2 separate regions of the Homo sapiens genome follow, and region 1 is linked to region 2. Evidence: fine-mapped expression QTL. A gene starts in region 2. The other region holds a variant in brackets. All regions are shown on one strand. Distances are between the middles of the regions.

Region 1 (5,370 bases), 26 kb before region 2:
TTTCAAAGATATTAAAAGGTAAACAAATGTGCATCATAGAATCATTAAAATATGAGTCCCTAAGCACTGAAATTGGAAACAATGCCCTTGCCCCAATTTTTTAAAATGTCCCTGAACTGTAAAATAAATAAACATAAGGGGATTTCCCCAAGATGATTACTTTTAAGTTTTATGAGGGAAAATGGTAAATGTCAAATTCTGTCCCTAAACCATATCTCATCTCTTTTGTTCCTCTGTAAGGGCTGAATCAGCCTGTTGGGTGACCCAGGCCTGCCCTGGGGGAGGGAGGAAATCCACACAACTGAGTCCTTTGAGCCTCTCCCCTGCCCTGAGTTCAGTAGCAGCTGGAAAGGGGCCCAGCTTTATGGGGGAACAATGGTGCCAGCCAGCTTCGGGTGAAACAAGGCTGAACAGCCTGGCTGGGTCTGGCCTGGGTCCAGAAGAGTGCCCCTTGCACCTGAGGGGTCCGCTCCCCTTCAGCAAAGGACAGATGAAGCCAGGGAAAGTGGAGAAAGAACTCCCTGGGCTTTCTCCGTGAACAGCTCTCTACGTAGAATCCCAGAATCACCCAGCCAGAGGACCTCAGTGTCCATGGAATCAAACTGCTCCATTGTACAGATGGGAAAACAAAGGCCCCAAAGGGGGCTGGAGCTTGCCTAAGGTCCTTCAGTAAGTCAGTGGCAAAGCTGGAGCCACAGTCAGGTTCCCTTTAATTCAGCATGTCTACCATTAAGTGCAAGTCTGTGCGATCTTTTGCTGTTTTTTGTTGTTTGTTTGTTTCTGTCTTTTAAAAATGCCCAAATTGGCTGGGCGCAGTGGCTCACGCCTATAATCCCAGCACTTTGGGAGGCCAAGGTGGGTGGATCATTTGAGGTCAGGAGTTTGAGACCAGGCTGGCCAACATAGTGAAACCCTGTCTCTACTAAAAATACAAAAATTAGCCAGCGTGGTGGTACATGCCTATAATCCCAGCTACTCGGGAGGCTGAGGCAGGAGAATCGCTTGAACCTGGGAGGCAGAGGTTGCAGTGAGCTAAGATCACGCCACTGCGCTCCAGCCTGCGTGACAGAGAGAGACTCCTACTCAAAAAAAAAAAAGAAAGAAAATGTCAAATTATGTTGCTTGTACAAAATGTCTGTCTGACACATCAGATAGTGTCTGACTCACCTGCCCATTGGAATGAGAAGCTCAGGATCTCAAGCATGAATGCCTCCAGGATAGAGGAGACCTGTGGGTACATGCCTGCCCCTACTCCTTCAAACTAATATTTACTGTGACATAGTAACTTCCTGGCTTCAAAGCTCACCTCTAACGCTTCCCATGTATGTGACCTTGGGCAAATTACTTATCATCGTGGTAGTGGCCTCCAAGATGGCCCTCAATGATTCTCTCTTCCTACATAACCACCAGGCTACTGCAGAAACAGGTGTGACTTCTGAGGCCAGGTCAGAAAAGACAATGCAAGGCTGGGCACAGTGTCTCATGCCTGTAATCCTAGCACTTTGGGAGGCTAAGGTGGGAGGATCACTGGAGTCCAGGAGATTGAGATCAGCCCAGGCAACATAGCCATAAAACGAGACCTCACCTCTACTAAAAAGAGAAAAGAAAATTAGCACCTGTGGTCTCAACCTACTTGGGAGGCTGAGGTGAGAGAATCGCCTGAGCCCAGGAAGTCAAGGTTGCAGTGAGCTGAGATGACACCACTGCATTCCAGCCTGGGCAATAGAGCAAGAACCTGTCTCAAAAAATAAAAACAGCCAGGCGCAGTGGCTCATGCCTGCAATCCCAGCACTTTGGGAGGCCAAGGCAGGCAGATCACGAGGTCAGGAGTTCGAGACCACCCTGACCAACATGGTGAAACCCCGTCTCTATTAAAAATACAAAAATTAACCGGGGGTGGTGGCACGTGCCTGTAACCCCAGCTACTCAGGAGGCTGAGGCAGGAGAATTGCTTGAACTTGGGAGGCAGAGATTGTAGTGAGCCAAGATCGCACCATTGCACTCCAGCCTGGGCAACAGAGCGAGACTCCGTCTCAAAAACAAAACCAAACAAAAAAACAAAGAGACTGCAGCTTCCATCTTGCTCTCTTGGATCACTTGCCCTAAGGGAACTTAGCTGCTATGTTATAAGCACACTCAATGTTATATGCTATGTTATAAGCACAGCCCAATGCAGGGACACACACAGCAAGAAGTAACTGAGACTGCTTGCCAACAGCCAACTGCTTTGCCAGCCGTGTGCACGGGCCCGCTTGAAACTGTATCCTCCAACCCCAGTCCAGCTTCCAGATGACTGCAGCCCTGGTCAACATCTTGAAACTTATGAGATGTTTCTGGTGAGAATCACTCAACTAATCAGCTCCTGAATTCCTTGCCTATAGAAAATACCTGAGGTAATAAATGTTTATTGCTGTTTTAAGCTTTGTAGTTTTGGGGTAATTCCTGACACAGCCACAGACAATGAATACAATCACACTTTGCCTCCTTTTCCTTAAAATGAGGATGATGGGAGGACTTGCTTTATATAATCATGAGGATTCCATATGATACATGAAAAGAATCTGGCTAAGCTGGGTGCAGTGGCTCACGCCTGTAATCCCAACACTTTGGTAGCCCAAGGTAGGTGGATCGCTTCAGCCCAGGAGTTTGAGACCAGCCTGGGCAACACAGTGAAACCCCGTCTCTACAAAAAATACAAAAATTAGCTGGGCATGGTGATGTGCGCCTATAGTCCCAGCTACTCGGGAGGCTGAGGTGGGAGGATCGCTTGAGCCTGGGAAGTTGAGGCTACAGTGAGCTGTGATTGTACCACTGCACTCCAGCCTAGGCCACAGAACAAGACCCTGTCTCAAAAAATAAATAAACCAATAAATAAAAATAAGAAGAGTCTGGCTCATAGCAAATGCACAGCAGATAGGAACCAATATTGCTGTATTATTATATGGTCTCCACTAATCAAGAGGAGAGGTTGAGAGCTATATGAGGAAGGGCCAAAAGGAAAGATGAAGTAGCAACCCCCAGTCTCTTCATTTTCCTGGCAATTCAGCTCTGACTACATTTTCATAGAACCTCCTAAGACAGAAGCCCCATGGGGAAACTTGATCTCCCTAGAAGGCAGTGTAGGGACTATTTATCACTCTGCAAGCATTCCCCTTCGGGTGCTCAGTCTTCATCATCCCCAC[C/G]ACTAGAACTTATCAACTAATTTCTTGCTTATCTACTAGGAGTCCCCAGTCAACAGAATTGACTCCATCTCAGCACTTTCCAGGGACATTCCCAACCTCTGGAAGCTATCCAACAAAGGCTTCCTTTGCTCCTTAATTTATCTCTGAGAAGCAGGTTTAAATTTTAGCTCTGCTGGGTTGGGCACAGTGGCTCACACCTGTAATCCCAGTGCTTTGGGGAGGATGAGGCAGGCAGATCACTTGAGGTCAGGAGTTCAAGACCAGCCTGGCCAACATGGGGAAACCCCGTCTCTACCAAAAATTAGCTGGTCCTGTGATACACTAGCCTGTAGTCCCAGTTACTCAGGAGGCTGAGGTTAGAGGATCACGTGACCCCGGGAGGTGGAGATTGCAGTGAGCTGTGATGGCGCCGCTGTTCCCTAGCATGGGTAACAGAGTGAGACCCTATCTCAAAAAAAAAGACCTAAACAAAAATTTTAGCTCTGCTACCGATTTGTCCTTTGTCAAGTTACTCAACCCCTTGAGCCTCATCTCCTCGTCTGCCAAGCAGAAATAGCGAATATTTGCTTCCGGGTTGTTGGGGGAAGAAAATGAAGCAAGACAGCAAGGTATGAATGCTTTATTGGATGGAAATAATAAATTGTCAATGCCTCCGGACTCTCAGGTGCTGCTCAACGCCCTGCCCTGCCCCAGGAAGCTTCTCCCCACAGCGGAAGCCACTTAGCTCTCACATGCAGGCTCTGCCCTGTGCTGGGCTTGACACCAACTTTGGTGGTTTTTGTTTTTGTTTTCAAGATGGAGACTCGCTCTGTTGCACAGGCTGAAGTGCAGTGGTGTGATCTTGGCTCACTGCAACCGCCACCTCCCGGGTTCAAGCAATTCTTCTGCCTCAGCCTCCTGAGTAGCTGGGATTACAGGCGCCCGCCACCATGCCTGGCTAATTTTTGTATTTTTAGTAGAGACAGGGTTTTACCATTTTGGCCAAGCTGGTCTTGAACTCCTGACCTCAAGTGATCCACCCACCTCAGCCTCCCAAACTGCTGAGATTACAGGCATGAACCACCAGGCCAGGCCTCTGTTTTTTTTGTTTGTTTGTTTGTTTTGGTTTTTTTTTTTGAGACAAAGTCTCCCTCTATCACCCAGGCTGTATGTAGTGCAGTGGCACGATCACAGCTCACTGTAACCTCCACCTCCCAGGTTCAAGCGATTCTCGTGCCTCAGCATACTGAGTAGCTGGGAATACAGGCTTGCGCCACCGCATCCTGCTAATTTTTGTATTTTTTGTAGAGACGGGGTTTTGCCACGTTGGCCAGGCTGGTCTCGAACTTCTGATCTCAGGTGATCCACCCGCCTTGACCTCCCAAAGTGCTGGGATTACAGGCATGAGCCACCACTCCTGGCAGCTTTGTTTTTTAATCAGGGAACTTTTTTTTTTTTTTTTTTTGAGACAGAGTTTTGCTCTTGTTGCCCAGGCTGGAGTGCAATGGTGGGATCTTAGCTCACCGCAGCCTCCGCCTCCCAGGTTCAAGCAATTCTCCTGCCTCAGCCTCCGGAGTAGCTGGGATTACAGGCATGTGCCACCATGCCCGGCTAATTTTGTATTTTTAGTAGAGATGGGGTTTCTCCATGTTGGTCAGACTAGTCTCGAACTCCCGACTTCAGGTGATCCGCCCGCCTTGGCCTCCCAAAGTGCTGGGATTACAGGCGTGAGCCACAGCACCTGGCTTAATCAGGGAACTTTAACCAGATTTTATCTCTTTCATCAGGGGTTCAGCAGTAACTAGCATATGTGCCTGACTGAATGCCTCCTTCTTATGACCAAGGCCAGCTTAAGATAAATTATTTTTATTCCTATTTATTTATTTATTATTTATTATTATTACTTTTTGAGATAGAATCTCACTCTGTCGCCCAGGCTGGAGTGCAATGGCGCGATCTCGGCTCACTGCAACCTCCGCCTCCAGAGTTCGCGCCATTCTCCTGCCTCAGCCTCCAGAGTAGCTGAGACTACAGGCGCCCGCCACCACGCCCGGCTAATTTTTAGTAGAGACGGGGTTTCACCGTGTTAGCCAGGCTGGTCTCGATCTCCTGACCTCATGATCTGCCCACCTCAGCCTCCCAAAGTGCTGGGATTACAGGCGTGAGCCACCGCGCCCGGCCTATTTATTTATTTTTGAGAAGTGGTCTT
Region 2 (5,370 bases):
ACCCGCCTCAGCCTCCCGAAGTGCTGGGATTATAGGAGTGAGCTACTGCGCCCAGCCTTTATGTTTCTTTTGTTGTTTGTTTTTTGAGACAGAGTCTCGCTGAGTCGCCCAGGCTGGAGTGCAATGGCGTGATCTTGGGTCACTGCAACCTCCCCCTCCTGGGTTCAATCAATTATCGTGCTTCAGCCTCCCAAGTAGCTGGGATTACAGGCACCCGCCACCACACCTGGCTAATTTTTGTGTTTTTAGTAGGGAAGGGGTTTCACAAGGCTAGGCGTGGTGGCTCACCCAACTCTACTAAAAATACAAAAATTAGCCAGGCGTGATGGCATGCGCTTGTAGTCCCAGCTACTTAGGAGGCTGAGACAGGAGAATCACTTGAACCCAGGAGGCGAGCGGAGGTTGCAGTGAGCCAAGATTGCGCCACTGCACTCCAGCCTGGGCGACAGAGCAATACTCTGTCTCAAAAAAAAAAAAAAAAAAAAAAAGAGACGGGGTTTCACCATGTTGGCCAGACTGGTCTCAAACTCCTGACCTCAAGTGATTTGCCTGCCTTGGCCTCCCTAACTCCTGGGATTACAGGTGTAAGCCACTGACCCTAGCCAAGCCTAGGAGTCTGAGAACAGCCTGGGCAACACAGGGAGTCCACGTCTCTACAAAAATAAAAACAATTAGGATAGTGTGGTGGCTTGAGCCTGGAGTCCCAGCTACTCAGGAAGCTGAGGTGAGAGGATCACTTGAGCCCAGGAGGTTGGCTGCAGTGAGCTATGATTGCACCGCTGCACTCCAGGTTGGGTGACAGAGCAAGACTCTGTCTCAAAAAAAAAAAAAAAAAAAAAGTCACTTTGAAAAATGTGACTTTCCAGATGGCAAAATACTATTTTCATTAGGAGGAAACAGGCTAAACAGTAATAGCAAAGGTCACTAAGTATTGAGCACTTAGTCATACCTCTGAGTCTCTGCCTGCATAGCCTATTATTTCTCACAAGCAATCCATGAAGAAGGTTAAGACAACGGACTTTCACGCCAGACTGCCTGGGTTCTTATCAAGTATGTGACTTAGTTTATATATTTGTAAAATGGGGATAATAATGGTATTTCTGTAATAGGTTTGTTGTGAGAATAAAGGGAGCTTGGTATCAGCTCTTAGAATACCGGACAGGCCACGTTGGCTCCACTAAGCTGTTGTCATCATCCCTAAGGGCACCCAGTTAAAAGGTAGAAAAGGGAGGATTTGAATCCGGTCAGTGTAACTCTCAAGTGTACATTTTTTTTCTTTTATTTTCTTTTTAACCACGCCCTTTAATGTACATTGTTAAAGGCTAAGCCAGGCCAGGTGCAGTGGCTCACATCTGTAATCTCAGCGATTGGGAGGCCCGAGGAGGGAGTATCGCTTGAGCCCAGGAGCTGGAGACCAGCCTGGGCAACATGGCGACACCGTGGCCCTATTCCCGCCCCATCCCATCCGCACTCCACCCCATCCCCATCTCTACAAAGAATAGAACAAAATTAGTCGGGTGTGGTGGTGCTCAACTGCTGTCCCAGCTACTCAGGAAGCCCAGGTGGGAGGCTCGCTTGAGCCCAGGAGTGTGAGGCTGTAGTGAGCTATGACTGCACCACTGCACTCCAGCCTGGGTGAAGGGTGAGACCTTATCTCAAAAAGAAGAAAAAAAAAGAAAAGGAAAAGAAAAAGAAAAAAGAACAACTAAGTTATAAACTAAGCTATATAGCCCATTGGTTCTCAAATTATGATTTCACTCACTAGCAGTATCACTAGACAGCTTGTTGGACATGCAAATTATCAGACCCTATCCTCCTATGCCAGATCTTCTGATCAGAAACTCTGGGGGTGGGGGTCAGCAGTGTAAGTTTTAATAAGCTCTCTAGGTGATTCTGATGCACACCATAGTTTGAGAATCACAGTCCTTATAGGCTCTGGTGGGCGGGGTGTTAAAAAAAAAAAAAAGCCTGGAGGTGCTGGGAGCCGCTCGCGCCCATCTCACCTGGAGCTGAGGAAAACTGGGATTTAACTGATTTACCACCGCAGCCAGCTCTTCAAGCCAGGGGCGGGCCGGACGGCTGGCGCGCAAGGCCTGCTGGGGCTTGTAGTCTAGACCACTTCCGCGCTCAGGCGCCTGCGCTTTAGCTGCTAACTCGCTCTAGTAGCTGTGGTCGGGGCTCGGGACCGGCTGCCATCTTAGTCTAGGGACTGAGGAGTCGCCGCCGCCCCGAGTCCCGGTAAACCCCCGTGGGCGAACTCGGGGCAGTTCTCGGGAGAGGGAGGGAGTCCGGATGAGAATGTTCGGGGAGAACAAGGGTAGAGGAGTGGGACGCGCGGTTCGGGACCCCAGAGCCGCGGCTGCTCCTTCTTCCAGAGCCGGTGTCTGTCGGGGGCGCGGGGAGCTCGGGCTACTGGCCCGGGCCGGGCGGTGGGGGTGGGCTGTCTGGACGTTCGGAGGGATCAGTGTCTGGCACAGGCTTCCGGAGGCCTTCGCCTCGCGGGCTCCAAGTTGTGAAAGGGCTGGGCCACGACGGGCGTGGGTACCGTCCGGCCCCTCGCCCCTCAGCCCCGCCTGGGGCCACTCTCCAGCGGTTCGGCCTACGCGCGGGGCCCGGCGGCGGGGCCGGCGCGGGCGACGTGGCCCTGTGAGGGGCGGCGGCCGGGTCCCCCGCCACCCAGCTGGCCTTCTCGAGACTTTTCCGAGCCCCCAGTCGCTAGAAGGGCCCAGCACAGCGGCTGCCTCCCCTTCTCTCTCCCACTCGCCTCCTCCTTCCATTGTCCCCCCGGCGTGGTGGTCCCGGCTCCGGCGCCCTCCCCGACGTCCGCCACCGTCGTGGCGGCGCCGACTTTTGCAGACGTGGAGCTGTCACTGCCCTTCCTCCGGAGAGTGCCCTTTTCTTTAGCAGAGAAAAGAAAAAAGTAGCCGTTGAACGTATTCTAAGGGTCGAAGCATGATGACATGACTTTTAAGTGGAGAACTCAAGTTTTCCAAGACAGTTCCCGTCCGCGACAGAAAAGAGAATCGCAGAATTTGTGCGCCCGAAGTAGACGCTGGGCCTAAAGTTAGTTGGACATGTAACCAGGTGAACTTGTAAAGGGCCAGGAATTCATTATCCCCAATAACAACGCAACCTTGTTTTCTTGGTTGTATTCGTATCCTAATCTTATTACATTTTCTGCCATTCTTCCACAGCTACAGTATACTTGGTTTGGAGTGGGGGATGGGGAATTGTGGGATTTTTGCCTTGAAAATTAGTAAGACCCTGGAGCCAGCCACCCACTTAGGTGGGTTCTCCTGCATCTTTTCCTGATAGAATTCGATCTTCAGGAAGTATGTAAAGGCAGTGTATTTCCATTCTCAAAATCGGCTAAGGAATGGTTTATCAGTTGAGGTGAAGTTCTCATGGCAGATCTGCTGAGAGCTTGCTATGTGTATTTACAGGTTTATTTAAGCTACGATTTATTTTTAAAATTAAGAAATGGGCCGGGTGCTGTGTGTGGCTCACGCCTGTAATCCTAGCACTTTGGGAGGCCGAGGCGGGCAGATCATGAGGTCAGGAGTTCGAGACCATCCTGACCAACATGGTGAAACCCCGTCTCTACTAAAAATACAAAAAAAAAAAAAAAAAAATCCTGGGCGTGGTGGCGCGCGCCTGTAGTCCCAGCTACTAGGGAGGCTGAGGCAGGAGAATGGCTTGAACCCGGGAGGTGGAGGCTGCAGTGAGCCGAGATCTCGCTGCTGCACTCCAGCCTGGGCGACAGAGCGAGACTCCGCCTCAAAAAAAAAAAAAAAAAAAAAGCAATGGGATGGGTGTGGTGGCTCACGCCTGTAATCCCAGCAATTTGGGAGGCCGAGGTGGGCGGATTACGTGAGCCCAGGAATTGGAGATCAGCCTGGGCAACATCGTGAAACCCCGTCTCTACAAAAAATACAAAGATTTGCCGGGTGTGGTGGCAGGCGCCTGTGGTCCCAGATACTCAGGAGGCTGAGGTGGGGGAATCACCTGATTCCGGGGGGTCGAGGCTGCGGTGAGCTGTTACCGTTGCCACTGCATTCCAGCCTGGGTGACAGAGTGAGACCCTGTCTCAAAAAATAAAAAAAAAAATTTAGAAATGAAGGTGGAAATTCTACTGCTTCTTTGAACTGTGAATTTAAGTTTTGTGAGTCCAAAAGGAATTCCATTACATTCAGCATACAGGTCAAGTCACCAAGGATATCATATGAAATTAAAAAAATGAGTACAGACTACTTCTTCAGTGTATTCTAGAATCAAACATTTCTACATTCTTTAGAAAAAAATACATCTTTTTCGTTTGTTTGAGACGGAATCTAACTTTGTCACCCAGGCTGGAGTACAGTGGTGTGATCTCGGCTTACTGTAACCTCCGCCTCCCGGGTTCCAGCAATTCTTCTGCCTCAGCCTCCGTAGTAGCTGGGACTACAGGCGCGTGCCACCACTCCCGGTAATTTTTTTGTATTTTTTAGTAGAGATGGGTTTTCACCATATTGGCTAGGCTGCTCTCGAACTCCTGACCTCGTGATCCACCTGCCTTGGCCTCCCAAAGTGCTGGGTTTACAGGCATGAGCCGCCACTCCTGGCCCTAAAAAATACATCTTTTCACTTATTGGGAGAGGCAGACAAACCAGTAGTCCCCAAATTTGACCATTAGAATAATTAGGAGAGCTTAGAAATTCCAGGGTCTTACCTTCTGAGATGGATTTAGTAGGTCTGGGTTGGCTTCAACCAATTTATTTTTAACACATGCCTTAGGTAATTCTGATGGTCTTGGGAACCACTGAGGGCAAATGGTACTGTAGACTTACCAAGGAAAGGTCAAAAAGCTTTGAGACGAAAGAGGAAGTGGCCAATTCTGTGTGTGTGGCTGGGTGGAGGATTGGTTAGAAGAGGCAAGATTTGCCCCTGAACCCACATTGGGTCTTACATGAAGAGTAGGAGTGTGAAAAGGGCGGGGAAAGAGAAGGACAGGGTAGGCTGAGTGAATGCCTTAATGCTGTGTGTAAATTCAGAGGATTATGGAACAAAAAGGGTTCAGGGAGTGTGGAGTGGAATGGGGAAGGAGAGCATTTTGAAACGCAAGGTCAGAAAGGTTAAAGGAAGCAAGTATATGAAAAGTGATTTTTTGTTGTTGAGACTGGGTCTCACCCAGTCACGCAGGATGGAGTGCAGTGACAGGACCTCCAGAGCTCAAGTGATCTTCCCACCCCAGCCTCCCTGAGTAGCTGGGACAACAGGCATGCATTAGCATGCCTGGCTAATTTTTAAAATTTTTTTGTAGAGAAAGGTTCTCTTTACGTTGCCCAGTCTGGTCTTAACTCCTGTGTTCAAGTGGTCCTCCCACCTTGGCCT

Evidence for each region.
Region 1: its variant is fine-mapped to the expression of ITCH in whole blood (TOPMed, PIP 0.91).

Annotation. Positions count from the first base shown.
Region 1 is chr20:34,334,637-34,340,006 of GRCh38, forward strand. No RefSeq gene overlaps it. Among named protein-coding and RNA genes, the nearest start is that of ITCH, 26 kb to the right of the region's middle. RefSeq lists enhancers at 3,624-3,733, 3,784-3,833. The variant C/G (reference allele first, on the strand shown) is at 3,183.
Region 2 is chr20:34,361,112-34,366,481 of GRCh38, forward strand. It overlaps ITCH (itchy E3 ubiquitin protein ligase), which reads left to right and starts at 2,162. Exons shown (of 25, transcript NM_031483.7): 1 at 2,162-2,238. RefSeq lists a silencer at 2,467-2,696.